Linked DNA regions of Homo sapiens. The protein of the gene in region 4 purifies or fractionates together with the protein of the main gene of each other region. This does not show direct contact. Each region holds a gene or a part of one and is shown on either strand. Other genes may lie near its edges. The genes, in order: TBL1X, CCNY, GAP43, HORMAD2, WASHC3 and MCM9.

Region 1 (5,226 bases), on a different chromosome or scaffold from region 4:
TGGTCTCGATCTCCTGACCTCGTGATCTGCCCCCCTCAGCCTCCCAAAGTGCTGGGGGGCATGAGCCACCACACCTGGCCTCTTAAAATTATTTTATATGGTCTTGCCATATTAAAGTATATGTTGGCCAGGAACAGTAGCTCACAACTGTAATCGCAGCACTTTGGGAGGCCGATGCAGGAAGATTGCTTGAGTCCAGGTGCTCAAGACCAGCCTAGGCAACACAGCAAGACCCAATCTCTAGAAAAAAATTGAAAATTAAAAAAAAAAAAAAAAAGAAAGAAAAAAAAAAAGCTGGACATGCTGACTTGTGCCTGTCGGCCCAGCTACTTGGGAGGCTGAGGCAGAAGGATCACTTGAGCCCAGAAAGCCAAGGCTGCAGTGAGCTATGATCAGGGCAACAGAGCAAGACCCCATCTCTAAAAATACATAAATAAAGTATTTGTTATTATTGATTTAAGGAATAAAATGGCACCATGTACAATAAGCTTCTTTTTGTCCAAATTCCCTTCTATCAGGAAATTCAGACAAGCAAAAATGCTCGCAGCACTGAACAATACTGCACATTCACATGGACTCTAAATCCTAACAACAGGCAGGTCCCTAATTGGAAAGAGTCAAGCCTAAAGGGGACACATGCCCTTCTCTTCTTGCTCCGACATGATGGTGCTGGGGATGCAGTTTCAACAGACCCGAAGGAAGGTTTCAGCGTCTTGGAGAGCTGGCCGGGAAGGTTACCGGGCAGGAGAGAGCCTCACCTCCTCCCTACTCCCATATTCTAGCCTGGGCAGGTGTTCCAGAAAGGAAAGAGCCCTGTGCAGGCTATCTGGGGTCATAATCGGTTCCAGGCTCAAGGGAAACAGGCAGAAAAAACTCTCATGTTTTCTTTAAAGCATTCCGGCTACATCCACCACGATAGGAAAAATGACAAGAATTCAAGGCAGACACCCAGGTCAAGAATAAACACTGTGAGTTTTGCCGTGAGCATTGTTTGTGCTTCTTTCACAGGGTCTCCTGGGGCTGGAGAACTGCCGCACTCCCCGGAATCACTCAGAGGCGCCCAGCAGCACAAAGCGCCTTCTGACTCGCTGTGGGTTTCTGAACTAAAATGCGCAACTAACTTATCAATGTTTACCAAAATATCGCTTATTTTAATCATGGGAAAACTGATACTCTAGGCACCGGACATAAACAACTGTCACTTGATCCCAATGTTTAGTTAACATAAAACCGTCATCCTTAACCAGTCTGAAAAAAACATGGCCTCCCAGACCTTGAAGCAGGGTCCATCTTCCAAACCAAATCTTCACACCTGGGAGGGAGGAAAAGGCTTGAGGCCACTCATCCAGCCCTTTAACTCTACACGGTAGGACATGCACAGGTTCTGTGACTTCACACAACCAGGTAGACCACCTCAGGCAGGACAAAAGTCACCAAAATGCCAGGACAAGGATTATATTAGAAAACATGCCACGTCATGAGATCACAGAAAGCGACATATGGCCCAGAGTAAAACACAGGTTAGCAGCTCCATAGAAACACAGATGTAGGAATTCATTTTTTTATTTCTACAACAAAGGCAAAAACAACTTGATATTTTTAGCCTATTTTATATTTACGTGATTAACCCATTGGGAAAACGGCAAAGGTCCTTAATGAACATGTATCCTGTTTTTAAACTAAAGCCATGACTATAACCTTCTGATACATTTCACATATGAAGTACCTTTTGGTAGGACTGTGCAATAAAGGTGAGGGTAACATCCTCTAAAAGGACATCAGAGGTCGGGCATGGTTGCTCACACCTGTAATTCCAGTAGTTTGGGAGGCCGAGGCGAGTGGATCATCTGAAGTCAGGAGTTCGAGACCAGCCTGACCAACATGGTGAAATGCCATCTCTACTAAAAATACAAAATTAGCCGGGCATGGTGGTGCATGCCTGTAATCCCAGCTACTCGGGAGGCTGAGGCAGGAGAATTGCTTGATCCCGGGAAGCGGAGGTTGCAGTGAGGAGAGATCATGCCACTGCACTCCAACCTGGGAAACACCAATGAAATTCTGTCTCAAAAAAACAAAAACAAAAACACGACATTAGAAAATGTCCCATCTGAAACAATGAGGCATCAAGAACTAACTGGCATAGAACAAAGAGGAAATAAATAGGCCGAGCGTGCTGGCTTACGCCTGTAATCCCAGCACTTTGGGAGGCTAAGCAGGTGGATCACCTGAGGTCAGGAGTTTGAGACCAGCTTGACCAACATGGTGAAACCCATCTCTACTAAAAATACAAAAAAATTAGCCAGGTGTGGTGGCACATGCCTCTAGTCCCAGCTTCTCCGGAGGCTGAGGAGGAGAATCGCTTGAACTTGCGGGCGGAGATCGCGCCACCGCACTCTACCCTGGGCGACATAGTGAGACTCCGTCTCAAAATAAAAGAAAAAAGAGCAAATAACTAAAAGAGTATAATTGGATTGTTTGTAACACAAAGAATAAGTGCTTGAGGGAATGGATACCCCCATTCTCCATGATGTGATTATACACTGCACGACTATATCAAAATATCTAATGCACCCCATAAATATATACACCTACGTATCCAGAAAAATTTTTAAAAAATTTTAAAAAGGAGCAAAGCTTTAGCAGCCTCAACAACACACCTGATGTTTTTCCACTGTGGTTTCTTACATTAAGGAGCAAAGCTGTTTTTTCCTTGCTTGTGATAACATCTACAGTGCAAAATGTGCTGTTCTAAGAAAAGCGGTTGGCCAAAGCACACAAAGGCATGAAGTTCATGTGTCATCAGAGAGAGGAGGCAAAGGTGGTACTGGAAGAGCGGATGGATTCACCTAAGGCATTCCACCATGTGTTACATTCAGATGGGATCCCCAAGACTTCCAGAGCAGAGCAGATGGCTGGGTGCCCCAGATTCGGGGCTGGGGGGGGTGACTGTGGAGGAACTGTGGGAGACAGAGCCATGAACATCTCTGGGCTGAGGAGATTGTTCTCTCTCCTGATGATGATGGTGGTCACACCAATCTATGCATGTGTCAAGACTCATAATGCACCCAAAGAGACAAACTTACCATATGGTAATTTAAATAATAAAATTATATAGATACAGCCCTAAAATGTAAGAGGGAAAAGATAAGGAAAAAAACAAAGCAAACTACTAGACACCATCGTGACTGATGGTGATACCTTTCCAGACCCAATTCCCAACTTCAGAAAACAGGAAACTATAAGCATGTTAGGCTAGCCGGGCGCGATGGCTCATGCCCATAAGCCCAGCACTTTGGGAGGCCGAGGCGGGAGGGTCGCCTGAGGTCAGAAGTTCGAGCCCAGCCTGGCCAACATGGTGAAACCCCACCTCTACTAAAAATACAAAAATCAGCCGGGTGTGGTGGAGCATGCCTGTAATCCCAGCTACTCAGGAGGCCGAGGCAGGAGAATCGCTTGAACCCGGGAGGCAGAGTGAGCCGAGATCGCACCACTGCACTCCAGCCTGGGCTGTGAGAGAGACTTCGTCTCAGAAAAAACAAACAAACAAACAAAAAAGGCATGTTAGGCTCCAAGCATTATAATAATTCTATGTCGGTCGACTGAGTAAAGTGGCTCACACCTGTAATCTCAACACTTGGGGAGGTCAAGGAGGAAGGATCACTGGAGCCCAGGAGTTTGAGAGCAGCCTGGGCAACACAGTGAGAGCCTGTGTCTACTAAAAATAAAAATAAAAAAATTGCCAGGTATGGTAGTGCGCATTTGGTACTCCCAGCTACTTAGGAGGCTGAGGCAGGAGAATTGCTTAAGCCCAGAAGGTTGAGGCTGCAGCTAGCTATAATAATTGCACTGTCTCAAAATAAACAAATAAATAAAAACTAAATGAGAAATATAATAACTCTATCTCCTTTAATACAAGGAGCCTGGGAAATCTCTCTCTCCCTCTACCCGACCCCTATATATATAATTACATATATATATATATACTCCTACCCACCTCCTCTCTCAATGAGAAAATTAATGTTAGAGAAGTTCACTGATTTGCCCAAAGCTCCAGTCAGTGCACGGCAAGCTAGCTGCAAACCAGGTTTCCCTCATAGCTGTCCCCAGCGCCCAAGTTCAGCGGGAGCCCAGATTCCCCATGACCAGGCAGGGCTTGGGGCACCTCTGGGGCTCACTTGGACGTGGGGGCCAAGGTCCCGCAGCAGGACCACACTCTGGGAGCCCTTTTCCTACTGACACTTGGAAGAGGGCCTCCACGAGGAAAATGCAGGTCCACACCCAGCTGGCTCAACCTGTTTGCTAATTTAACAGTTGCAGGAAGGGAAATGTCTCCAGACATTGGCAAATGCTCCCTTCAAAAGTGGGGGACAAAACTGTCCCAAATGAGAACCATTAGTTGGCTGCAACATTCCAGAGCTCAACGTTGAAAATACTGTTCCAATAAGCAAGCATCTTTTCTACCTTCATTTCTAAAGCTTCCCTTTCTCCTGAACCCGCCGCCTATCATGCCCCATCTCAAATCTCTCTGATCCCATCGGACAAGAACAAACCTAGACAAGAAAAGGAAGCAGTACCCGACTTCCTCTGAAAACTCAACATATTCTCTCTTCCATCTTAACTTTAAATTTGTTCCAATTCCATTTGTAACGGTTTCCAATTCACTTCTGCAACCTTCAGGCATGCGGTGGATTCTCCCTAAATACTGGATGGCGATGGCTGTGTGGGAGGGGGCCAGCTTGGGAGGCGCAGGCATCTGAAGTCAGGCTCCCGCTGGCCAGGCAGGCAGCAGCCCGGCGGACTCCTTAACGGCTGTCTTTCTCCCCTGGAGATCTGAAACGTCTCTCCTCAGCCTAGGCTCTTTGCCCTTTAGAAACATGTGGACTTCTTCGGCCCCTTCCCATATCCAGCTTTTCTTTTGGTTCTGGTGGGTTTCATGTTTGCCAGTCTGGCCAGCATGGTCCATGTGGTCGAGCCCCACAGAAAGTGAGGGCGGGAGTGGAGGGGGCAAGACCGGAGGTAAAAACTCGAGTCCAGTCTCCGGCTAACTAAAAATAGTTATGGGGGAAAAAAGTTTATCTTTCCAACTAAAAAAAAAAAAGTGTTTACAATATGCCTTTAGTGTTGCTTCCTGGGTGGAACTGATTTTTCAATGCATGTGGTAGTGAAAGATTAACAACTTCTCGGATGTAGCATATTAGGTTTTTTTGCTTTTCCTAAGGGAGGAAA
Region 2 (5,226 bases), on a different chromosome or scaffold from region 4:
ATATGCGAGACCTGCCTGGACCTTCCAATATATCTCCTTCTGCCTTGGCCTCTGGCTTTCTCATCCTTCCAACAGAAGATCCCAGTTCAGACAGGCAATGAGCTTTTCATGTTGTCGAAGTACCGCATAGGACTAAAGTGGGTGCCATGCATGGTTCTCAGGATCAGTCAGCTTGGGTGACTCCTGAGGGAAGGGAAGGGCCTCGTGGAGGGGCAGCTGGATGCCAAGGCCTTTCTGCCCACTTCACTGCAGGCCTGGCTTCCTCCAGCTGCTGCAGGTACACCACAAAGGCCTCTACATAACTCATCAAGGTGCAAATCAATTACCTCACTCCCTTTCAAATTTCCTCATGTGGCAGTATCCATAGGAGAGCTTTCAGCATATTCTAGGAGGCTAAAAAATACACTTAGTGATCTAAGTTATTGTTACTCTTTTAAAAGGAAGTTGATTAAGCTGTGAAATATTTGCTTTGGGTGAAGTAGGTTTGGGTGTTTGAAGGGCCTGTAGGCTCTCTGTCCACAGCAGGCTGCAGTCCTACTCCGTGTGGGAAGCACGGCCAGGGCTAACTGCTCTTCCTCCTCCATTGCCTGCTGAGCAGCATGCCAAGATGCCAAACACATGCCCAGTGAAAATAAGGGCTTAATGAATGCATCTCTGTCAACTCCAGGCCAGACTTGTCCTGAATGACTGTTTCTAACTCTAGGGAACACGAGGAGGGAAGAACAATCCTACAAGAGTCTTGCTCAAGGCACACGTCTCTGTGCCCTCTACCCACAAGCATGCAGCTGCGCTGATGAGCCTCAGCAGACAGCAGAGACCAGAGGATGGGCTGCAGGGCTGCACCTACCACGAAGGCCTCCAAGGCTGCTCCTCTCCAGCTGCAACCAACAAGACCCCCATACAAACTGGTATCCTGGTCAACACCAGTCTATTTCATAGGACAAATGAAGATTTCAATAGTTACAATTATTCACAAGAAAAGTGCCAGTCCTACACTACTCCAAAGAAATGAACTCATCAGCCCTGTCACCTTTGGTGAGTGATGCAGAGGGCAGCAAGGGATGCCTGTTAGATGTTCTCTCAAGGCAGACACTGGGTGAGCTGTGGGGTTTAAATGCTGGCCCTGAACATCCTTCAAGCTAAATAATAATCCCGACCAGGAAGGCACTATCTTTCACAGCCAGGCCATATTTTTCTTAGGAATTAAAGGTAGAAAAAATCCCCGCCACTTTCCATCTACAGCAACTTCAAAATAAATCCTTCCTCATGGCATGTATTCCAGTACTAATTTCATCTATGGTTTCATCTGCTTTTCTTAATCTTCTTTTCCCTTCACTGAATTTCCCTACATAAAAATCTCAACCCTGTTGCCCTGTTGCGTGTTTTGGTTAGAACTTAAAATCCCTTTGAGGAACAAAGCTGGGCAGTACATACATTACTCAATTATGACATAGGAACCTGCAATCATTCCTAATCATCTAATGATTACTTGATTGTCTGTTCTATTATCCTTCAGGCTGTGAGTTCAATGAGAAGGAATGAACAAACAGATGAACAGATGAATGAATGAGCAACAAGCCAACAGGGTTTCTGTTCAGTTAGCCTCGGAGCACACAGCTCTTCATGTGGCGGAGACACAAAGAGTCCTTCGGTCGCCTGTAAAGCTTCTACTAGACAATTGTCTCTTCTCAGAAACTACAGGAAATGGTATTCTGATCTCCAGGATAGCTCATGCACAGGCAAAGCTAATTTCTCATCTAAGTTATACACAATGTAAAAGGTCAGTGACAAAAAGGGTTCCATTGTTAAATCTATTTCCCAAGTGAGATTTGACCTAAATAGTGCATAACATTTTAAGAATCCAAGTAAGAATACTTTTTCTTTTGAGACAGGGTCTCGCTCTGCCCCTCGGGCTGGAGTGCAGTGGCATGATCATAGCTCACTGCAGCCTGACCTCCTGGGCTTAAGTGATCCTTTCACCTCAGCCTTCCAAGTAGCTGGGACCACAGGTACGTGCCACCATGGCCAGCTGACTTTTAAATTTTGTAGAGTCGGGGTTTCACTATGTTGTCCAGACTGGTCTCAAACTCCTGGGCTCAAGTGATCCTCCCACCTTGACCTCCCAAAGTGCTGAAATTACTGACGTGAGCCATGGAGCCCAGCTGTAAAAACAAATTTTTATTTTTTCTTGAGTCTTAAAATATACGTTACCTCCATACTGTCTCTGAATATCCTGCAGACACATTTACTCAAAAGTCACAAAACAGAAGCTAGGAATATACACACTCCTTCCTAGACAAGTGTTCATATAAGATGAATGTATTCATCATATCTTACTAATACTATTACAATCTTTGTAGGGAATCAACACCAGGAAACCTAGACGTATACAGGGAGTACCTTGGCCATATAACCACTCTCTTAGCCCTACTGTTTTACTTACCTGCATTTTTAATTTCAGCATTTCCTGGATTTGAACGTGATTTCACAAATGACTTTAGGTGGGGGCTACAGAACAATCTTCACAATCTCTTCCGGGATATCTATCCTCTATTCTCCCAGGAGAACGACAACACTGAAGCTTATGCCACGGTGTCCACAGGGTAACCTGGTGAGGATTCCCTGCTCCAACCTCACTCCGCTGAGTAACAGGAACGGGCCCTGGACCACCTCGGCTGGGGATGGGTGTGGCCATCCTGAGGGCACTCACCAGGGTGACGATGGCACATTCAGCCGTCAGCTGAGCAGCACTGAACAGTGTCCGAACGAACCGGTAAATCTGCTTCTGCTCTGGGTTGTGTTTGTCATAATCTGGTGGCACTTCGGATTTCTGGGGAAGAAAATATTTTCAGATGACTGATCTCCCGATTGGAGCAAAAGAGAAATAATTAAATCATCTCATGAAACACACGGAGGAGATTACCGAAAGAGGGTGAAGATTTTCATCAAAAATATCTAAGAGCATCCTTCCATCTGGGTCCCTGGTAGGGAAAATAATAGAAAATGAAACTTACTTTCTGCAAGAATGTCATTCAAATAAAACAAAAATACATTTTAATTCAATGACTTTTTTTTTTTTTTTGGGATACGGAGTCTCACTCTGTTGCCCAGGCTGGAGTGCAGTGGCGCCATCTCAGCTCACTGCAACCTCCACCTCCTGGGTTCAAGTGATTCTCCTGCTTCAGCCTTCCAATTAGCTGGGATTACAGGCACACAACACCACACCCGGCTAATTTTTTTTTTTTGTATTTTTAGTAGAGACAAGGTTTCACCATGTTAGCCAGGCTGGTCTCGAACTCCTGACCTCAGGAGATCCACCTGCTTTGTCCTCCCAAAGTTCTGGGATTACAGGTGTGAGCCACTGCACCCAGCCAATTCAACTATTTCAAGAAACACAAGTCAGTGCTAAATGGTTATTCATGAATAATGATTTTTCTTGGGTGCAATACTTAATCACTTATGATTAAAATAGCCCAAGGAAATAAAGGTTATAAACCACACTTAGCTAAATTAAGTAAAAATTTAATTTTAATTTTTTGAGTTTTCAAATGAATCGAATCTAGGCAAATGACTTAAATTTGACATCTTATTTCCAAGCAAAGGTTGTTGGATCTGCTTAAGCCATCAACATACTGTGGGTGATAGGAAAGAAGCGCCAGGGTAAGAATGAATATCAATGTATCCTAGAGATCAGTCTGATTATTCACAACACGCAACGTCACTACTTCATTTAAGTTTCACAATTTTATACTGAAAAACAACAGGTGACAGATAAAAAGTCTTTAGTCAATAACCTATATGTGAACAGTTAGCTCTTACCAGGCTGGTACGTGCACAGAACCACTTAAAGAGGTAGCTTTCACTGTGAACACAGTACCGTGGGCCGCTGGGCTCTGCGGGGACCCTCCGTACCTCACGAGTGACAGCTCTACTTTCATCTGTTATATGAAATTTAAGTTTTGCCTAAAAAATTTTCTTTAAACAACCAAACTTGGAAATGACAGCTTTTGGCTAGCTGCATGTAATTTCCATAGTCTGTGCTTCAGTGTCAGGCTTCAGAACTTCAGAAGGCTACAGACCTGTCCCTAACACACACTTATCATGACAAACATTACAATTTCTGCTTTAGAAATTTACCATCTGTGTAAAAATAAAAGAGAAAGAGCTTAACAAAACAGCTCAATTTTCATTCCTACATTTGCACAACAGCAATTATTATTATTATTTTTTGAGACGGAGTCTTGCTCTGTCACCAGGCTGGAGTGCACTGGTGCAATCTCGGCTCACTGCAACCTCCACCTCCCGGGTTCAAGCGATTCTCCTGCCTCAGCCTCCTTGTAGAGGCTGCCTCAATATCCCTTGTAGCTGGGATTATAAGCACGCGCCACCAGGCCCAGCTGATTTTTGTATTTTTAGTAGAGACGGAGTTTCAGCATGTTGGCCAGGATGGTCTCAATCTCCAGACCTCGTGATCCGCCTGCCTCGGCCTCCCAAAGTGCTAGGATTACAGGCGTAAGCCACTGCGCTCAGCCACAGCAATTATTTTTAAAGCTCTGGGCATTCACACCTGTGCTCATTTACATTTGCCTGCATGAACACAGGCAGCACAGACACAGATCAACCCAAGCGAAAGAAAGGTTCAACCCAGCAGGTAGTCTGTGAGCAAAAAGCAGCTTCTGGGTGCACGTGGTTACACTCTGATACCAACCTGGGCTACAAAGAATCAGCGGATTCCCTCACCTTATTTACTGAGTTTTCAAATAAACCAAATCTTGAATCTCTATGAGGCATTCAAGATGCTACAGGAGAGACAGAACCTGGCCCAGGACCCCATTCCTCAGCAGTTGAGCCCCATTCAATTTTCCTGGAGAATGAGAGCCCCTGAAAGCATCCAGCACCCTAGAGAAACATTCGCCTGAAGTAATTTTTAAAATGAGAACAGAGTCTAAAAATATAAATGAGAATTAAGAGCTCGAGCTAAGACGACTCAGGAAAGGGGATTCTGGAGAATCCTCTGAGAAGTAGACTGTTTCCTTACTTCCTCTAAAAGCTGTGTGTCCCAACTGAACAGCACCACACCACCTTTATCAAGCTAACAGGTCTATCACCAGCACCAAAGGCCAGCCTAGTATGAGAGCGAAGAGAAGGCATGCAGACGGGCATCCCTCCTCATACCTAGAGACATGCAGGTGGCAATCTGTACATTAATCTTGCTTGTTTACAAAT
Region 3 (5,808 bases), on a different chromosome or scaffold from region 4:
CTCCCTTCATTGCTCTTTAGCCACTAGCAGGCTAGGTAGGGTGTTCCTAATCTGCAACCGGAATGTTTCTGGTAGGAGCCATTTCTCACCCACTCTTTGTCCTCTTTTATCACTTAAAATCACGGAAGGCTGTTCTGAAAGCGGCTGGGCTCCTTGTAACATTAAAAAATTATTAAACTCAGAAACTAATTCTGTTTTTTAATCATAAATATGAAAACTAGGAAGCAAACTGAGAAGAATGAAAGACCAAATCAGCGGATCTGAAGCAGGCCACTCTCAGGAAGACTCCTGAGGAATAATTAAGGCTAATTTTAAATATCACCTCCTGGGTATCATCATCACCATCGTTCCCAGGTACCTGTCTGAGATAGTCCATTTTGAAATAGATATACCTTAAATTATGTTAAAATGTACTAAGCACTTATTGAGCTCAGTGATCCTGAAATATGCCTAACAATAAGCTGCCTAGTTGCCACTTATTAGCTAGGTTTATGTCTAGGAGGTCTAGGAGGGACTATGAAGAATATGAGCTGTTTAATTAGGGGTACTTGTCATCACTAATGAACAACAAGAAATAGTTTGAAAACTTCTTTGAGATATTCACTTGCAAATGTCACCCGAATTTCAGAAAAGTACAGTCTCTGGAGTAAAGCTATTATACACTCAGAGAGACTGTTGTGCTTTGCATGCGTTATATCATTTAGTCCTCAAAACATGTTGTCAAGATTGGCATTATTATCTCCATTTTAAAGATGAGAAAATTAGGTGCAAAGAGCTTCAGTAACACACTCAAACTCATTCAACAATAAATAACTAAAAATTGTGCTATACACACTTTAAGAGTCACATGTTCCTCCCCCAAAATTATGAAAGGCCATAGAAGGAATTCAAGAAGTAGGCTTCATGACTTATCGTTTCTTCTCATCTCAGATGAATTCACTTTAATCTCTCATGCCCAAATTGTAAAATATCATTTTGATCACCGTCAATATTACACAGACCTGTTTGAATGTGCTCAGCTTTTTCAGTAAAATTAGAAGAAACCACAATTTACAAACAGGTATATGTGCATTAAGGAAAAAACAAAAAACTACCATGTGATTTTAGATATGGATGCCAATTCTTAAACATTGTTTATTATTTCTGAGCTCAAGTGCTTAGAATGTTTAAAATGCAATATATTTATGTGGATTTTTTTCCAGGATATTGGAACATATATAAAATATGCTTGTGCATATCTAAGCTTTGTATTTATTTCAGGTTATATGTATACTGAGAAGAATATATAAACAGTGTATGATATTTACATGTTATTTCATTTTTTGAGGGAAATTAACCTCCACAATTATTAACTATGCATAAAATGTAATGGCAGATATGACTTATATTGTATAGGACTGACTACAATTCCTCTTTAGAAATAGCTGTTCTTTGCTTTTATAATACTAGGAAAAGAGGAAAAGAGTTCTTAAAGAAATACAAGGATTCCTCAAGCCCCTCTTCCCTAAAACATGCTCTATCATATCTCCTGGATTGACTGGAATATCCTTCTCTGCCCCCACCCCATCACCCTCTCAATGCAGTGGAAAAGTCGGTGGGTAATTGGGTCCAGATTGGAGGTGTTTAAATATTCATGAGGCTGGCAGGGGACTGGGAGGGGGCGACTGTCTAGAATGGGGGTAGGGGCTGGGGGAAGTGATTAGTCACTGAAGGCTAGAGAACAATTCCGAGAAAGAGACGGAGAGAGAGGGAAGAAAAAGACAGATAGATAGATATTGGGGGGAAGGAGAAAAAAGGAGAAGAGAGGGAAGAGAGGACAGCGGAGAGAGAGCACCAGAGAGAGAGGGAGAGAGAGAGAGAGCGCTAGAGAGAGGGAGCGAGCATGTGCGATGAGCAATAGCTGTGGACCTTACAGTTGCTGCTAACTGCCCTGGTGTGTGTGAGGGAGAGAGAGGGAGGGAGGGAGAGAGAGCGCGCTAGCGCGAGAGAGCGAGTGAGCAAGCGAGCAGAAAAGAGGTGGAGAGGGGGGGAATAAGAAAGAGAGAGAAGGAAAGGAGAGAAGGCAGGAAGAAGGCAAGGGACGAGACAACCATGCTGTGCTGTATGAGAAGAACCAAACAGGTAGAGCTAAAGATTTTTTACTTCTTGCTGTTGTGAAATAACCCGAGTACAGTATTTCCCCGTAAAGGCAAACAATTTTTTTACTGCTTCTGCTCTGGCCGTGGTGCTCGCGCTTCCTTAGCATATGGTAACTGATGGTTGCATCCCAGCTTTTATTCTTTTCTGTCTTTCATGCTCTGGTTTTGGAATGCTGCTACTAATTAGGGTGAGGGTAGAAAAAACATGCCTGTTTGGCTAGAAATAATTTTTTTTTTTCTTATTAGTGAATGCTCAGCATTTGAGGTCTCTGGTCTTGAGGGTGTGGACGTAGAAAGGGGTGTGGGGGAGATGATGTGGGCTCTACCTACAAGATGGGGAGGCATTTCTTTATATTATTTGCAAAAAAGCAGGGTTGAGGAAATAATATTCAGAACTGAGTATTGCCTCTCTGTCATACAATTTTCTCACATGTGCTGCGGAAGATGCCTTATTTCGTGCATGCATGAGCTTCGAAGGGGCGCAGGTATTTATGGAAAAACGTGCAGGTCTTATTTATTTAGTATTTATTTTTCAATGAATGAATGAAACTGTGATTTGATAGATTTTTTTTTTTTTTAAGAGAAGCTAAGACAACTGGGGCTGGGGGAGAAATTGGCCATGCAGAAGGAGAAAATCCCCTTCCTAAGATCAGCAGCCGATTGTGCACCAGCTGGTCGGAGGAGAGGGTGGACCACGCCCCTAGGAGCTCCGATGGGATGGGAAAGACAGCCGGGTATTACCTGTTGGAAACCAGGTCTTTTCTCTTATCCCCTTCCCTTGCTTCTTTCCTGGGATTGTCAGTGACCAGAGACAGGCTAACATCCTGGATAATAAGTATGGTGACTCATTTTCATCAGGAAGAGGGACACATCCAAGATTAGCAAGAATCAGAGCCCCTCCTTCCCTCCCCCACTGCCCAGGTTTTACAGCCATTTCCAATTGCTCGCTTATTTCTTGAAAGACATTTTAGAAACTTGATTGGGGTGAGAGTGGGAAGGAATGACGAGTGTGGTATTCCGCAGCAACCGACCATGCCATGGCAGTCTCCAAAAGAAGCTTTCAAACATTTGTTGGAATGCATTTGAGTGATTTTGGCAAAGGTTAAAGAGAAAAATGGGTGTGGGATACGGGTGAGTGTGTGCGTATGCTTGACTGTGGTGGGGGTGGGGGTGTGGTGGGGGCAATCTTGGTCAAAGAAGCCCTTCGCAGACTGATTGCCTTAGGGGTGGGGTGCAAGAGATGGAATTTGGGTATAATTTCCAGTGCAGGTATTGGAAATTGGGCAATTTGTAATACACTCCCTGAATCCGAAGGGGGTGGAAGAGAGTGGAGAAGAAACAGCCTGCCAGCTTAGCACATTTAGCCAGCGCCCTGGAAGGAAGGGTGGGGAGTGAGGATGAAGGAGAAGGAGCAGGAAGAGGATGGGAGACTGAAGCAGAATGTCAGAGCAGTGGGAGTAGAGATTTGGCATAAATAAATAAATAAATAAATAAGCAGACATCCTGGATTGTGTGGGGCTATTTGGGGGAAAAAGTCGGATAGTGGGGGATTGAGTTGGGGGCGGTATTTGCAGCATCTCCTGAAACTGCCCTATGGTTACAGAGATTGATGCTTCCATTGGCTCATTTTATCAAACCAGGGCATTTTCTCTCTGTGTCCTCCTTCATTTTAATATATAAATGTAATAAATACAGGTGTCTGGGTTAAGAACACTGTCAAAGAAAAGTCCTGAGGTTATTTCACTGGTGAGCTGGGGAAATAACATTTAGGAAGGTGGAGCACTAAGTAAGCCAAAGCCATCCACTTAAAAAGCTTTAATTTTGGAAAGAAAAATATTCAGGTTCATAATTTGTTCCCACCCTATGTGTACATATGCAAGTATACATACATCTCCTTTAATAAAGGAAATCATGTATGATTTTTAGAAAAGGAATTAGGGCTAAAGGAATTCCCTTCCCAAAATGAAGACAGCTGCCTTCCCTGGGGCTCTATCTCACCAACAGCCCCAAGCATTCACTCTGATGTGCAAAGTGATGAAGCTGAAATTGTGTTTAGAGTTGTAGAAATTCGCATGTAAATGTATACAGCATCCACATACTTCATATGCTACAGTTGCATGTGTAAGTGGTTTCCACATGCCTCTCTGTGTTTTAGCATCATTTATATTCAAGAGAAAATTAAAGGTATAGAAATTGTCCTACTTTGCTCATGCATTTTATAAATGTGTACTTCTGTGTGAAATGGTCATGTCTCTTATAAACCACTGTTGTGTATCATTCACATTAGCCAGTATTTAGGATACCATTCAATCAGACTAAAGGAAATGGTGTATTCAGGGCGTGGGCTCACACTACACTGACTGGCATTTATGTAGCATGAGTACTTAAGTCTCACGCAGGTTGCCTGCTTGTGGATGAAATTCTGTATCATTTATGACAAAATCCAGTGGTGCCCATCCTTCTGCTGGCATCTATTCATCATCGTAGTACTTAACAGGGAATAAAACAAGGGCAAAAACCTGCAAAGGTCTAAGCTCTGCCACACCCATAAAATCCAGCAGAAACGTGGGAGGGGGGCTGAAGGGCTTGCACTTCCTTCCTCTTCCACTTGAGCGGCATAAAGAAGCAACCTTGGATTTCTAAGTTGGAATACATTGCCAGTGGGTGAGAAGAAAGCATAAATGATCTCTATTAGCCATTAGTTATCACTATAGATTATTATAGCAGGAAGAAGAGAATGAGAGTGGGGTAGAGATGAGAATATGGTAAAGGAGTGGGCAAAGGAGGAATAAAATAAAATAATCCCTAATATTGTATTGCCTTATGATTTTCAAATATCTTGGGGCTTACTTTAAATAGCTTAATTGCCATGTGTATTGCAGATGATTAAAAACTTGGCAAGGTGTGATTTATGTCTACAAAGCAAGAAAACTATGAGGTGTTTCTTTTGTTGAAAAATAATGACTTTAGTTTGTAATTGAAGTGTAAAGAATTTCATGCAAGCAAGTAGTCCCTCTACTCCCCAGCCCCCCATCCATGCCAATATCTGCTTTTTTCCTCATGCAACAAATAAATCTTATCTCTGAGAGTGTGATCTGTGGTTTAAAATTCCGACCTCTCTGCCTTTCCTTGCAGTGTTGGGAAGGTGTGGAAGGATGCTGCCTTGCTGCTTGGTGCAGGCGATTCTTCCTAGTGATAAATTGGATTCCTCCCAAATCTCTCTGAGCCACACCCAGTGTCACTCAGGGACTTAGTGAATTAATTAAGCTGAGCCATTTTACTTAATATAATTGAAGCTTCTCGTTCTTTTTTTTTTTTTTAATAGTGATTTTCACCACAGGTTTCCAAATTTAAACAGAAAAAATATTTGAAGGGCATTTTCTTTCTTTTTTCTTTCTTTTTTTTTTTTTTTTGCCAAATTATCTGGACTTGCAGAGAACCTTAGAAAATTCATGGTGAGTCTAGAAAGTGTTCATTTCTGGTGACTCTATAATTCCTTCTAACCCATGCCAGGGCGCATACACAATGAGCCCTGATCTCTCCTGCTGACAGAGTCTGTGTAACTCTCTTCCCCACCCCCTCCCCTACCAACCCATGCTGAGGCAACTGGAATAAGAAAATGCAGAGTTAATTTTCTTTCTTGCTGAGCTGGCAAAACTACAGAAACCTC
Region 4 (4,838 bases):
AAATGGAGAATGTGTTACTAAACCAAAGATGGAAAGTAGGGCAACATCATATACAGAAAGCATATCTTCAGGGCTTTTTTCAGATACATATGTGGATACTCTACTCCTGAGGCTCTATTGGTAAACAGATCATAGTAGCGTCTTGTTAGTCTGCATCAAGAAACACTTAATAATTAAAAAGAAACACTTTAAAAAGCTGTATGTTTAAAATATAATATGAAAAGTATTAGAAGTCATTTGATGATCATCTGATGTTCAGATCAACCAGATAATCTTTCTAGCCTGCCTGATGAGTGGCCTTTTGCTTGGCTTGTTGGCTTTGGCGTCAAGTGTACAAACTCAGCCAGTTGGAATACACCTGAAAAATGTTTCTCAAATGTTCCTTTGTGTGGATAAATTTGTTGGTTTATATAGTGTGTATATGTTATTTGTCTATGTTAAGAAGTGTCCCCTGGCTGATAACATACTTGTTTTTCAGCCCACAAATTTTCTATGAACCATTGAGAGTTCCCAGGCCTCACTATTACCTTGAGATATTGAAGATATTTTGACTTACTGCAATAAAATTACAGTTCTGCAACTTGTAATTAAACTTTGGATTTATTTGAACAATGAAAGAAAAAAGAGAACAAAACTATTAAACCATCAGGTCAACTGGTCAGTTGAGAATTCGTACACTCATCTTCTCTTCTTTCATGTGTACCCAGATTTGATAGAAGTGAGGATAGTTTGGTTTGAATGGAAAGCATGGCCAAGCAACAAGCTAACTTTTACCAGATACTTTTTTCCTACAGTCAAACCATAACAAATTCATCTCCTAGATAACAACTTGGTTTTTGTGCTTTGACTTTTTATGTTGCTATTTCCTTTCCTTTAGAGCAGCCCATTTCAAATTTTTACATGTAAGTAAACGAGTTATTTGAGGGGCTGCTCTATATCTTTTCTCAGAGTTTTGTATAGCTACTGTCTTAGTATAAGCCAAAGGGAATTTGTGGTTCCTGAGATCAGAAATTCAACTGCTTTCTAAAACTGAAGGATGAATTAGTACTTAAGTTAGCCATTTTGATACACAATCTTTGTTCCTAAATGACACTTAAATGTTTTATTTGCACTTCCACTATTTTGTTATAGTAACATATCAATAATAATAACATGCCTCTCCTACGAAGGACAAAAAGGATAATTTTAGAAACTCTACTATATATTCTCACAAGTCTTGCTTTAAATATATATATTATATATTATATTATAGAATATATTATATATAATATAATATAGAATATATATAATAATATATATAATATAATATAGAATATATATAATAATATATATAATATAATATATATATATATATATCTTATTCCATTTTCCTTCCAAAGAAAAAACATAGGACATGGAAAAACCTTTCCTCCCATCTAGTGGCTGGAAAATATATAAATGTCCTCTATCTGTTTTTTGGAATTCCAGGCATTAGGGATTGTTTGGCAGATTATAATATATCTAATTGTTCACCCAGTTAAGCAAAAATAAGTTCTAAAATCTTCACCAAAGCCAAACTCAATGGCAAAATATATATCTATAATGATTCACTAACCAACTTCCCTTTCATCAATAACATACTCCTCAGTAGAAAGGTTATGGTTCTTCTTAATTCATTATTCTGAACACACGATAGAAAACACAAGGCAGTATGTCTCTGCTACCTGAAATTGGGACTTAAATTACATTTGCCTCTAAAGCAGTCAGTGCCCCAGATCTCTCCTAAACCTTAATTGCTTCTTGTTGGCCCCACAACTTAACAACCTTCTCTCAAGAGTTGGATGTGTTGAATTCACTAGAGAGAGCCAAGAAACTGTCTCAGAAACTGGCTGCCTCCAAGGGACCTCAGCTCCTGAAACTTGGAATACCAGACTCTGATACTGGCAGCAGGGCCTCTGTGCAGGGCCAAACCAGCCCACAGGAAAGCAGGTTTGGATCCGTTATGCAGCTTGAGGGATTAATGCTTGGTCTACCTGTCTTATATATGTCTTGTGCAGATGTCAAAATCTCTGCTGAATTGTGCCTCTCTCTGGTGATTCTCACAGATTCAAAGAATGAATTTTGTGTGCAGTCAGCAAAGTTCTGAGTGCTCCAGGAAGAAGAGGAAGGTCAGTGAACCAGTGAAGGTCTTCATCCCTAACAGAAAATGAAAGCTAAATATTCCTTCTACATTTATTTTAAAATAAGTTTATTTTGTAAAAACATGCATAAACTGTCTTAGCAGGAAAGTACATTCCTGTTACCAAAACCTTTTTCTAAATTTTTTGCTCAATTTTTTTTGTCAGTTGCTAAGTGCTAAATTACTGGCCAGGTAGGACGCGAGTCCACTTTGCCATAAGGAAAGCGGGTCAATAGGGCTGCCTCTGGATAGCATTACTTCAAAGCTGGGTTAGAGATGAGGCACCTTTTATATTATATTTGTAAAAGAACCACAGCAGCTATTTTGGAAAGAAGCTGTTGTTCTCAAAGGAAAGAAGGATTTTTTTGCATAATTAAACTCTTCAGCTATTTAGACTACTGTGAAATGTTTTGACTTGTTGTAACCTGTATACTGGAATCCCTCTCTAGCTGTATTAAAAATTCCCACAGAGTTGCATAGGATGTGTGGAGGTGCTTATCCAGGTGTGATTTATGTGTTAACCTCAGTCACGAGGTTGATCAGCTAATTGTGGGACCAAAATGTGCCCTGCCTCAACTCTGGCCCCAGGCCCTGTTCTGTTATCCAATCCGAAACACGGAACATGCTGCAATTCAGGAGTCTGGCTCTCTTCTTAAGACCTATATTAAATATTTCCCAAGAAGCACTTCAGTTTATCAGTCTGTAACCTGCAAATGATGCTATTAGTTCCCTCCTTATTCTGGAAGAATTTGGATAGACTTAATTGATGATTAGTATGAGATGAACAATAGATGACTTAAAGTGTTATTTCTATTATTTATATAACATGAGATTTAGTAACTTATAAAATGAGGTTTAGTAATTTAATTTAAATGGATAGGACCAATAAGTTAAATATTAAGTGTGTGACTTATGGTTAAATAAAATGAAAATACAAGACTTTTTTTTTTGCTCATCTTTTTTCACACAGAAAGGAAAAGTTTCTTTGCTAACATCAGTATCTCTCCAAATGTAAAGTGTAGTGAGAACATCAATAATTGGAGTGCTTGTTAAAATATGGATTACTAGGCCTGCCTCATTTCTACTAAATCAAACTCTCAGGTTCAGGCACTGTGGAAAACTCTCCAGATTCTAACACACACACACACAAAATGGAGAACCAATGACCTCTGACCCAGACTAAAGTGAATCTCTGTAGGAAAATCCCAGGGAGCCTGCCTGTTCAGCACTGCCCCTTGCCAGACTCTCAGCCATTCTTGACTATCTAGGGCAGCCTACCAAACTGGGGTCTTAAATTGGGCTATAGCACTGGGGCCTGCAGGCAAGGAGGAGCATTTCCCCTTCTTTTAGCATATTAAGTGGACTCATGAAAGCCTGCTCTGCCACTGAAAGAAGGAGGGGAAAGGTATTGGACTTATATCCTTGATAGAATTGTAGACTGAGTCACTATAATTTCTTTGAAGAGAATCACATAAAGAGATTAGCTGTCTAGTAGAGGAATTAGGTTTGTGTCTCTCCAGAGAGAAGGTCTAAGAGCAAATCAGTAAAGGCTATAGGAGATCAATTTATAAGGAGGAGCTTTTTTTTTTTTTTTTTTTTTCAACATAATCTCAGCTCACTGCAACATTGACCTCCCAGGCTCAAGTGATCCTCCCACCTCAACCTCCGGACTGGCTGGGACTACAAGCATGTGCCACCATGCCTGGCTAATTTTTGTGTCTTTTGTAGAGATGGGGGTTCGCCATGTTGCCCAGGCTGGTCTCGAACTCCTGACTTCAAGTAATCCAGCCACCTCAGCCTCCCAAAGTGCTAGGATTACAGGCATGAGCCACCACACCCAGCCCAGGAGGAGCTTTTTAACTCTACAATTGTCAGTTGTCAAAATTTTGAGATGGGCTACCTTGTGAGTTAGTGAGCTTGTCTTCACTGCAGGTATTTGAACACAGAGGAGCTTCACAAAAACTCTATAAAGACTCTCAAAGCAAATTAGCACTACTGAGTAATTAGTTAATCTGGATTTCAAAAGGAACTATTTTGCTTCAAGGGGAATTGAGCTCATAATCTGTATTTGTGATAGTCATAAACTTAGCCTAAGGCTGACAGATCCTTTAAGTCAAAGTCTCAAATCTGAATCTATCTAGAAAATTTCTATAGTGATTTTATTATCTCTATTAACACCTCTTTCCCCATCTGAACAGTCTTTATCACTGCCAGTAGGTGGACTGTGTGTTTCTGAGGCAGTGTGTATGTGAGACAACAGAGAAGTTTCTGGGCCTGTGCCCTTGGCTGGGCACACACGGAAGGAGATCTGTTACCAAGGGAATCTGAGAACTGTGAAAATGTGAACTATCTGATTTTACACAGCAGAGCTCAAATATGCAACCAGCTATCAATATTGGAGTGTATTCAGTTCTATCTACTGAATGATTTATTAGAAGGAAAGAAATCTTTTCTCTATTCATTTTGGTTCTTAATTGTAATGGGATGAATAAACACAAGTGCATCAAGGAGCTGACACTTTAGTGAAAAGAATGAAAACAGGCCCCATGCTGGGATGCCTGAGCTGTTCTAGACCAGCCATTCCCTCACTCTGACTGTGCTTGGTTCATCAGTGTGATCACAAAGATTAGATGATGATAGTTGGAAACTGAGACATTATTAAATAAAAAGTTATGTAGGG
Region 5 (5,226 bases), on a different chromosome or scaffold from region 4:
CACCCTTCGATTTTTATACCAGGGCAAGATGGAGAAGTATCTGGAAAGGGACTGTCCCAGGATTACTAGCAGAAAGAAGCAAATACTCTTATCCCCATAGCCCTTATCATCAAGCTGAAAAATAAAGAACAAAGCAACAAGTAAACACACCTATGAAAGCAACTTGTTTGAGCTGTCCTGAAACAGGGATAGCCCTTCACCTTTGTAGTGCCTAATGGTTCTTGAATGAGAGCTGTTTACTGACAACTAGATCAAAGAAAACAATAGTCATCTCATTTATTGATAGATTATGATCAAAGCCTCATGAGTCACTCTTTAACCTCCTCCTGTTCCTGTCTCAACTTCTCTGCAGCTGTTCTGGCTGTATCTGTATTCTAGTACTTCTTTGAACTCTAGAGAAAAGTTTGTTCATCAAAACCTCATGAAGTTTAAAGGTAGTCTATTGCCTTTTGTCCTTTTTCAAAAATCTTATTTCTTTATTTAAATTGACAGGTAAAAATTGTATTTTTATGATGTACAACATGATGTTTTGATATATGAATACATTGTGGAATGGCCAAACCAAGCTATTTAACATAAGCAATGCCTCACGTACTTACTTTTTTTTGTGGTGAGCACACTTAAAATCGCCTCTCTTAGCAATTTTCAATACAATATATTGTTATTAACAGCAGTCACCATGACATGTAGGAGATCTCTTGAACTTATTCCTCCTGCCTAACTGAAATTTTGTATCCTTTAACCGCATCTCCCCAATCCTCTTAACCCCAAGCCCCTGCTAACCACCATTCTACTCAATATTTCTATGAGTTGTACTTTTTTATCCTCCATATATAAGTGAGATCATTCAGTATCTGTCTCTGTTTGACTGGCTTATTTCATTTAACACAATGTCTTCCAGTTCATTTATGTTGTCACAAATGACAGGATTTCATTCTTTTTTAAGGCTAAATAGTATTCCATTGTGTATATATACCACTTTTTTTAATCCATTCATCCATTGATGGACACTTTTGATTCCGTATCTTGGCTATTGTGAATAATGTTGCAGTGAACTTTCAAGTACAGATGTCTCTTGAATGTACTAATTTTACATCCTTTGGATATATACCCAGAAGTGGGATTGCTGGATCATATAGTAGTTCTATTTTTAATTTTTTGTGGAACCTCTGTACTATTTTCTATAATAGCTGTACTAATTTACATTCCCACCAACAGTGTACAGAGGTTCCCTTCATCACATATATGGTTTCCAAATATAGTCTCCCATTCCATAGGTTCTCTTCACTCTATTGATGGTTTCGTTGGCTGTGCAAAAGCTTCGTAGTCTTTTAAAATAATTTTTAAAAAATAATTTAAAATCCAGATTCTACAAACTTCTTAGTGTGATGTAATCCCATTTATTTATTTTTGGTTTTGTTACCAGTGCTTTGGGGTTTATATCCAAAAAAAGTCATTGCCCAGACCAATGTCGTGCAACTTTCCCCTTATGTTTTCTTCTAGTAGTTTTACAGTTTCAGGTCTTACATTTAAATCTTGAATCCTTTTCGTGTTAAATTTTTTTATATGGTAAAGGATGAGGGTCTAATTTCATTCTGCATGTGGATATCCAGTTGTCCCAAAATGATTTATTGAGACTGTTATTCTTAACATCTGTGAAAAGTATGTTTCTGTAACTGTCTTTTCTGTGTTCTTAACATCTTTCTCAAAAATCAATTGACTTTAAATGCATGGATTTATTTCTGGGCTCTTTATTCTGTTTCCTTGGTCTATGGCTGTTTTGATTACTGTAGCTTTGTGGTAGATTTTCAAATCAGAGAGTGTGATCTCTCTGGCTTTGTTTTTTTGGCTTAATATTGCATTGCCTGTTCAGGGTCTTTTGTGGTTCAGTATGAATTTTAGGATTTTTTTTTCTATTACTGTGAAAATATTATTGGAAAATTGATAGGGATTGCATTGAGTCTGTAGATTGCTTTGAGTGGTGTCAACCTTGTAACAACATTCATGTTTCCAATCCATGAACACACGTTATCTTTCCATTTATTTGTGTCTTCTTCAATTTTTTTCATCAATGTGTTATAGTTTTCAGTGTACAGATCTTTCACCTCACTGGTTAAATTTACCCCTATGTATTTTTTTTGTAGCTATTGTAAATGAGATTTTTTTTCTTTTTTTTCAGATAGTTTACTTTTAGTGTATAGAAATGCTACTGATTTTTGTATGTTGATTTTATATCCTGCAGCTTTACCAAAGTAGTTTGTTAGTTCTAACAATTTTTTGGTGGAATTTTTTATAAGATTTTCAATATATAAGAGCATGCCATCTGCGAACAGAAACAATTTCATTTCCTTTTTTCCAATTTCAATGCCTTTTATTTTTCCCTCTTGTCTAATTACTATAGCTAGGACTTCTAGTACTATGTTGAATAGAAGGGGTAAGAGTGAATATCCTTGTCTTGTCCCTCATCTTAGAGGAAAAACTTTCAGTTTTCACCATTGCGTATGATGCTAGCTGTGGGCTTGTCATAAATGGCCTTCATTGTGTTGAGCTAGATTCTTTCTATACCTAATTTGTTGAGAGTTTTTATCATCAAAGGATGTTGAATTTTGTCAAATGCCTTTGTTCCATCTATTGAGATGATCATACGGTTTTTGTCTTTCATTCTGTTAATGTGATGTATCACCTTTACTGATTTGCATATGTTGAACCATCCTTGTATCCCAGGGATAAATCTGACTTGATCCTGGTGAATGACCTTTTTAATGCGCTGTTGTATTCAGCTTGCCAGTATTTTGTAGAGGATTTTTGCTTCTATGTTCACTGGGGATATTGACCTTTGATTTTCTTTTCTTGTAGTGGATTTGTCTGGCTTTGGAATCAGGATAATGCTGGCCTCCTAAATTGAGTTCGAAAGTTTCCCCTCCTCTTCAGTATTTTGGAAGAGTTTGAGAAGGATTTGTATTAGTTCTTCTTTAAATGTTTGGTAGAATTCAGTAGTGAAGGCATCAAGTCCTGGGGGTTTTGTTTAGTGGGAGACTTAACTACTGATTTGATCTCTCTACTTATTATTGGTCTGTTCAGATTACCTATTTCTTTATGATTTAGTCTTGATAGGTTGTATGTGTCTAGGAACTTATCCATTCTAGGTTATCCAATCTGTTGGCATATAATTGGTCATAGCAATCTCTTATGAGCCTTCATATTTCTTTTGTTTTAATTGTAAAGTCATGTTTATTGGAGTATGAACTTATATGCAGTAAAATTTACCATTAAGTATGAGATTGGACAAATGCATAATCATACCATAATCAAGATGTAGAATAGTTGTAGAACAAGATATAGAATCACTCCAAAAATTCCCTCATGCTCCTTTGCAGTCACCCCTTTTTTATCCCTAGGAATGCATTGTTCTGTTTTCTGTCAAAAGGGCCAAATTTAATCACTGCAATGGTCTCCAGTACTGTGGAAAAATTCCTGAGCATACAAAACACACAAACCAAGTTTTTAAAAAATGAGATACTTTTAAAAATGTCTTTAGCATATCAACCAAATGAAGGTAGCTTCATATTTTACTACAGATGCTCAGATATCTTAGGCAGAATTAAGTCCACCATTGCCATATATATGCCTCAACAGTAATATTTAAGAGTAGACTGTAAAAATAAACTTACAATCTTTAGAATCGTCAAAACAATGGGATTATTAAATGACCTTTGTAAGTTAAAGCAAAGTTTATAAAGTTGTCTTACATAGTTGTGAAATAGCTAGTCTAGTTAGATAGAATTAACGTCTCCTAAAACTGACCTGCTTGAAGAACTACTGTAGGTCATGTCTTTGTAGGTAGAGTATGTGAACGAAGATTAAGTACTTGCTCTTTTGTGTTAACACTGTGTCAAGTTTCAGACTGGGGCTGGTTGATAGAAAAACTAGTTAAAAAAAACTATTTTAAATAATGGAATTGAATTTTATGGAAATTCTCTGTGGCACCAACTCAACCACAGGACAGAAACAAAAAATTCTCATCTAAACATTCCTGTAGAAAATTGGGACCATCTAAAAATTCACCCCAGCTACCACCATGAAAGAAACAAAGAAAGCAAAAACTTCTGTTCTGAATATATCAGTGGTCCCATATTCAGATACTTCTTATCTACTTGAAAAGCTTTGATGGGTGGGGCACGGTGGCCCACACCTGTAATCCCAGCACTTTGGGCCCAGGTGGGCAGATCACCTGAGGCTAAGAGTTCGAGACCAGCCTGGCCAACATGGTGGAATGCTGTCTCTACTAAAAATACAAAAATTAACTGGGCGTGGTGGTGCACACCTGTATTCCCACCTACTTGGGAGGCTGAGGCAGGAGAATCACTTGAACCTGGGAGGTGGAGGTTGCAGTGAGCCAAGATTGCGCCATTGCACTCCAGCCTGGGTGACAGAGCAAGACTCCATCTCAAAAAAACAAAACAAAAGAAAAAAGAAAAGCTTCGCTGATTCTTTCAAACACACATCAGACCTTAAGTTCATTAGCATTTATAACGTCACTGAGCTGCATTGAGCTCTGTGGCTGAAAAAGCCAATTCTTTGTATTTCTGTGGTATCAGTTGTAACATCTCTTTCGTTTCTGATATTATTTGAATCTTCTCCTTTTCTTAATCTAGCTAAAAGTTTGTGGATTTTGTTTTTCTTTTCAAAAATCCAGCTCTTAGTTTCATTGATCTTTTCTATTGTTTTTCTAGTCTCTTTCATTTTTTTCTGTTCCGATCATTATTATTTTTTTCCTTCTACTAACTTTGGGTTTTATTTGTTCTTCTATTCCTTCAGTTGTAACACTAGGATGTTACACTTTGGATCTTTCATCTTTTTTGTTATAGGTCTTTACTGCCGAAGCTTCCTTTCCTCTTAAAACTGCTTTTGCCACCTCCCATAAGTATTGATGTGTTGTATGTCCATTTTCATTTGTCTCAAAATACTTTTAATTTCGTTTTTAATTTACTTGACCTATTGGTTGTTTAGGAGCATGTTATTTAATTTCCAGTTATTTATGATTTTTTTCAAGATTCCTTCTATTATTGATTTCTGGTTTCAAACCAATATGGTCAGAAAAGATACTTGATACGATTTCAGTCTCCTTAAATGTATTAAAATTTGTTTTGTGGCATATCATATAACCTGGAGAATGTTTTGTGTGCCCTTGAGAAGAATGTGTATTCTGTTGCTGTTTTATTGAAT
Region 6 (5,226 bases), on a different chromosome or scaffold from region 4:
AGTGAACAGGCAACCTACAGAATGTGAGAAAATTTTTGCAATCTGTCCATCTGCCAAAGGTCTAATATCCAGAATCTACAAAGAACTTAAACAAATTTATAAGAAAAAAAAAAACCACATCAAAAAGTGGGTGAAGGATATGAACAGGCACTTTTGGAATGAAGACATTTATATGGCCAACAAACGTGAAAAAAAGCTCATCATCAGTAGTCATTAGAGAAGTGCAAATCAAAACCACAATTAGGTACTATGTCACACCATTTAGAATGGTGATCATTAAACAGTCAGGAAACAGATGCTGGAGAGGATGTGGAGAAATAGGAACTGTTTTACACTGTTGGTGGGTGTGTAAATTAGTTCAACCATTGTGGAAGACAGTGTGGCGATTTCCTCAAGGATCTATAACCGACATACCATTTGACCCAGTAATCCCATTACTGGGTATACACCCAAAGGATTATGAATCATTCTACTATAAAGACACATACACACGTATGTTTATTGCAGCAGTGTTCACAATAGCAAAGACTTGGAAGTAACCCAAATGCCCATCAATGATAGACTGGATAAAGAAAATGTGGCACATATATACCACGGAATACTATGCAGCCATAAAGGATGAATTCGTGTCCTTTGCAGGGACATGAGTGAAGCTGGAAACCGTCATTCTCAGCAAACTAACACAGGAACAGAAAACCAAACACTGCATGTTCTCACTTATAAGTGGGAGTTGAACAATGAGAAAACATGGACACGGGGAGGGGAACATCACACACTGGGTGGGGGGCTAGGGGAGGGATAACATTAGGAGAAATACCTAATGTAGATGATGGGTTGATGGGTGCAGCACACCACCGTTTCACATGTATACCTATGTAACAAACCTGCACATTCTGCACATATATCCCAGAACTTAAGGTATAATAATAATTTTTAAAAAGTATAAGTCACGTTGTACAAGCAATCACCAGGACTCTTTCCGTCTTGCAAACTGAAACTCTATACCTGTTTAAAAAAACTCCCATTTCCTCCTCCTCCCAGCCCCTAGCAACCACCATTCTACTTTCCGTTTCTATGGATTTGACTACTCTAGGTATTTCACAGGTAAGTGGAATCATACAGTATTGATCTTTCGTAACTGGCTTATTTCACTTAGCATGATATAGTTAAGGTTCTTCCATGTTGTAGTATGTGTTTGCATTTTCTTTCTTTTTAAGACTGAACAATTTTCCATTGTGTGTATAGACCGCGTTTTCCTTATCCATTCCTTTATCTATGTACGCCTGGATTTTCTCCGCCTCTCAGCTGTTGTGTGTGTAGTGCTGCTGAGAACATGGGTGTGGGCTTCATTACTTAACAGTGGCTACCTTACCACCATCTAAAGCAGATTTCATGCTCAATCTAAGTGACTTTATACAACTGAGAAAATTTACTGGGCCTTTGTTCAAGCTTTTTTCAATTTTGCTTCTTACTGTCTGGGGTCTAGAAGCAATTTTTTTTCCCTAACACTTCAAAACCTCAAATTTCTGAGATGTCTTCATTGCTTTTCATTTCTCTTTGAAGATTGGTCAGTTTTTTCCTGTGCTCACCACGTGCCTGCAATGCTTTGCCGAAGGAAGTTTTTCTTGTTCGTGTCAGTCTGATGTGGATTGAGGGTGGTGTGCTCTGCTCCGACAATGATTCCGGGCCCAAGCTCCTTCTCTCATGTGGCTCTCTGACTCCAGGGCTTTATCCTCTTCTGTACTCCACTAGTAAAGAGAGAGAAAAAGATTGCACAGGAAGGCTTTTAGGGGCCAGACCTAAAAGTGGTTTATGTTCTTCTATCTTTACTTCATTGTCCAGACTTGGTATCATAGCCCTACTTCACTGTAATGGGAATAGGAAATACAATCTTGCTCTATTCCCAGGATGGAAAGAAAACAAGGTTAGGTGAACATATAGCACCTGGTGCCACAGGCTGGAGATAAATTTGGAAGTACCAGCATATAGGTGGTGATCAAAGCCATAAGTAAAGATGAGGATCATCCCGTAAAGGGAGTAATGGGAGACCTTCACAAAAACAAGGGCACTTTCTTAAGGGTCTTTACTGGTAAAAATAACTTTACAATGTTAGGTTACACAAGTTATTAGTAGAACAGTTACTACTGTGTTTGTAGGACGTTTAAATGTGTGCATTAAATAAATGTAAAAGTAGTTTTTTCAGAAATTGGAATGTCTTTACTTCTTGAAGTTTAATACAAAAGAAATATGTATCAGCATCCTTTTATGACAAAGCCTGTAAATGTAAAATAATGCTGAAGTTCAGAAATACTGAACTAAGTAAAGATTTATTTTTATTTGTCGTTTAAATTATGTACATTTATTAAGCATTTACTATGTACCAGGCAGTGTGAGGATTATAACAATAAATCACAATCTCTCAAGGAAGACCACATTTAGTAGGACAAAAATAGGCTGGGCAAGGTGGCTCACACTTGTAATCCCAGCCCTTTGGGAGGCCAAGGCGGGAGGATTCTTGGGGCCAGGAGTTCAAGACCAGCCTGGGCAACATAGCAAGATTCCATCTCCACAAAAAATTTTCTGAAAATCAGCTGGGCATGGTGATGTACACCTGTAATGCTAGCTACTTGATAGGCAGAGACAGAAGGATCACTTGAGCCCAGGAGTTTGAGGTTGTAGTGAGCTGTAATTGCTCCACTGCACTACAGCCTGGGGAACAGAGTGAGACCATGTCTTTTAAAAAAAATAAGTAAGGCAAATAAGTTGATGCCGAAAATCCCAGGCAGAATCGGCAGTCTGGAAGTAAAAGCGCATTGATTTTGGAGCCCAGCAGATCTAGGTTTGAATCTCAGCTCTGCTCCTCTCAGTGTAACCTTGGGGAAGTTAATATTCCTGAACTTCTAGTTTCCTTATTTCTAAGTTTGTGATAATAGCACCTACCCTTCAGGTTGCTGTGATTAGGGATGATCTTTGTAAACCTAATGCAGTGCTTGCTTGATATTAAAAATGTAGTTATTTTTATTAATATTGTTGAAGGTAGAGTTCATATGGGATAGAAAAATGAGTTACCTTACAGTCTATGAATTCATTCATTTAGTATTTAGTGAGCCACTACTACGCACTGTATACTTAGGATTAGATTGTATGTATGTATTTGTGTTTGTTTTCTAAAGCCCCATTTAGTTTTTTTAAAAAATGTTTGTATCACAGGTCTGTACCCACCAGGTTTACATATGGTCTTCCCCACTTTCAAATGCCCAGAGACCACCCTGTCTGTCCTGGCACTGTCTTCATCCTCCCTCTTTGCTACAGGGATCTGCCTGACTTATCTCTCATAATCTCCTCTTCCTCTGCCCACTCCCGTATTTTCCTTGCTCCTATTTCTGCTGACTTCACCTCAGACAGCCTTTTTTCTTTGCATACAAATTTTTGTTAGTTCTCCCCACCCCCAACTTTTTTTTTTTTTTTTTTTTTGAGATGGTCTCTTGCTTTGTGAGTGCAATGGCACAAGCTCGGCTCACTGCAGCCTCCACCGCCCAGGCTCAAGTGATTCTCCCAACTCAGCCTCCCAAGCAGCTGGAACCACAGGTGTGTACCACCGTGCCGGCTATTTTTTGTATTTTTAGTAGGGATGGGGTTTCACCATGTTGACTAGGCTGGTTTCAAACTCCTGAGCTCTGGCGATCCACCAGCATGATTCTTAAGCTTAAGCTTTTCTAATGGAAAAATTAATTCCCCCAGTTACCTTAGGCATAATTTACCACCTTCTTTCTGTGTTCATTTTTCTTCTCATACATTGGAAAACTCTCCAATTATATCCCCTATAGATCTCCAGGTGTCCCCACCGAAGTTTCTCCCTGCTGATACTAATGCTGATACTGACACCAGCACTCCTTGCACACTTACGATCTGGCAGGCACTCTGCTCCACCTCTTCTTTCCCCAGCAGTTCTGTTGTAAACTAATTGGCAGCAGAGATCAGATATGTACCTTTTTGGATTCTCAGTACAGCTTTTTGCACAAAGGAAATGGTCTATAAATATTGGTTGGTCAGAGAGAGGATGAATGAACAATTCATTTGACCTAGCATTAAAAATAATTTTATAAAAATTATGTCATATGCAATTGTATTTTGTTTCATTGCCAGTGTTGTGGACATTTTTAAATAAGAAATACAAATAGTCCGTCTTCAGTGTGGGTTAAATGTGCTTTTGTGGGTTACTTAGGAACCGCTTATTACATTGTTCTATGGCAAATTATATTCCAAGTTCTAAACAACTGTCTTTACAAAAGCCATTTTGACACATAAATTATAAGATGTGGACTGTCCAGAATTTTTCCTTGTCACTAATTTTTTAAAAGGGAATTTAGTTTTTGGTAAAAATGCCTTGTTTATCTTTCTCTTATTTATTTAATCAGTGTCTTCTTGTGCCACTTGCCACAAATAAAGATTCTCAAACATTTTCAGCCTCAGGGAATGAAGTAGCTGCTAGCTAGAAATAGATCAGGGATTAACAAATGTAATACATGTTGCTGATGTCATAGGGCTGTGACTTGGGAGGCAGACATCCCACTATAACTAAAAATGGGCATCAAGTGCACAGCATACAAATTTACAGATTCAAATTTTTACATTTGTTATTGCCAATGAATATGTCACATTATTTTGAGAACTAGCCCATCATTAATTAGTTTAAAAACAATATCTAAGTTATGTCACATCCATCCCTATCCTGCCACGCTCCATTTAGGACTACCTTGTCCCTCTACTGGACCATTGTACTAGAGCCCCTACCCTGCATCCTGTCCACAGTCCTTTCCTGTCCAACCCACTCACCAACCCAGTCCTCATCAGACTTCCCTTCACAATGGCTCCTCAAAAACTCAATGCCAAATCAATCATATTTTCTGATTTCCTTTCCCTCCCTCTTTCTCTCTTTTTTGTTTCTTTCGTGTTTAGAAAAAAAATCAAAACAAAATGAGTGAATACACAGAAAGTTTTTGCCTCAACCACTCACTATTCTCCAGAGTCATCCTCACTCTCTACCCTCACCCCCTCTGCAAATGCCTGTCTTTCTCCACCTAAAAATGTCCAGAGGTCTTGAAAGGTTCAGTTCAAAAGCTGCTTCACAGTGTTTGCTTCTGTGTTCATCTTTTCTATCCACATAGATGAATATACATCATCCCTATTTCCCCTGGGAACTTTATTCTTTTAGAACTTAACCAT

What was found.
Region 1: the proteins of HORMAD2 (region 4) and TBL1X purify together in Homo sapiens (affinity purification with mass spectrometry; one large-scale study listed by BioGRID and IntAct). This does not show direct contact.
Region 2: the proteins of HORMAD2 (region 4) and CCNY purify together in Homo sapiens (affinity purification with mass spectrometry; one large-scale study listed by BioGRID and IntAct). This does not show direct contact.
Region 3: the proteins of HORMAD2 (region 4) and GAP43 purify together in Homo sapiens (affinity purification with mass spectrometry; one large-scale study listed by BioGRID and IntAct). This does not show direct contact.
Region 5: the proteins of HORMAD2 (region 4) and WASHC3 purify together in Homo sapiens (affinity purification with mass spectrometry; one large-scale study listed by BioGRID and IntAct). This does not show direct contact.
Region 6: the proteins of HORMAD2 (region 4) and MCM9 purify together in Homo sapiens (affinity purification with mass spectrometry; one large-scale study listed by BioGRID and IntAct). This does not show direct contact.

The regions. Positions count from the first base shown.
Region 1 is NC_000023.11:9,467,491-9,472,716, reverse strand, and holds part of TBL1X (F-box-like/WD repeat-containing protein TBL1X), read right to left. Parts: intron 1-5,226. UniProt on the Homo sapiens protein: F-box-like protein involved in the recruitment of the ubiquitin/19S proteasome complex to nuclear receptor-regulated transcription units. Plays an essential role in transcription activation mediated by nuclear receptors.
Region 2 is NC_000010.11:35,527,728-35,532,953, reverse strand, and holds part of CCNY (cyclin-Y), read right to left. Parts: intron 2,982-5,226; coding exon 2,924-2,981; intron 2,831-2,923; coding exon 2,711-2,830; intron 1-2,710. UniProt on the Homo sapiens protein: Positive regulatory subunit of the cyclin-dependent kinases CDK14/PFTK1 and CDK16.
Region 3 is NC_000003.12:115,621,599-115,627,406, forward strand, and holds the start of GAP43 (neuromodulin), read left to right. Parts: upstream 1-1,911; 5' UTR 1,912-2,091; coding exon 2,092-2,121; intron 2,122-5,808. UniProt on the Homo sapiens protein: This protein is associated with nerve growth. It is a major component of the motile 'growth cones' that form the tips of elongating axons. Plays a role in axonal and dendritic filopodia induction.
Region 4 is NC_000022.11:30,173,979-30,178,816, forward strand, and holds the end of HORMAD2 (HORMA domain-containing protein 2), read left to right. Parts: intron 1-2,084; coding exon 2,085-2,189; 3' UTR 2,190-3,097; downstream 3,098-4,838.
Region 5 is NC_000012.12:102,054,587-102,059,812, reverse strand, and holds part of WASHC3 (WASH complex subunit 3), read left to right. Parts: intron 1-5,226. UniProt on the Homo sapiens protein: Acts as a component of the WASH core complex that functions as a nucleation-promoting factor (NPF) at the surface of endosomes, where it recruits and activates the Arp2/3 complex to induce actin polymerization, playing a key role in the fission of tubules that serve as transport intermediates during endosome sorting.
Region 6 is NC_000006.12:118,829,589-118,834,814, reverse strand, and holds part of MCM9 (DNA helicase MCM9), read left to right. Parts: intron 1-5,226. UniProt on the Homo sapiens protein: Component of the MCM8-MCM9 complex, a complex involved in the repair of double-stranded DNA breaks (DBSs) and DNA interstrand cross-links (ICLs) by homologous recombination (HR).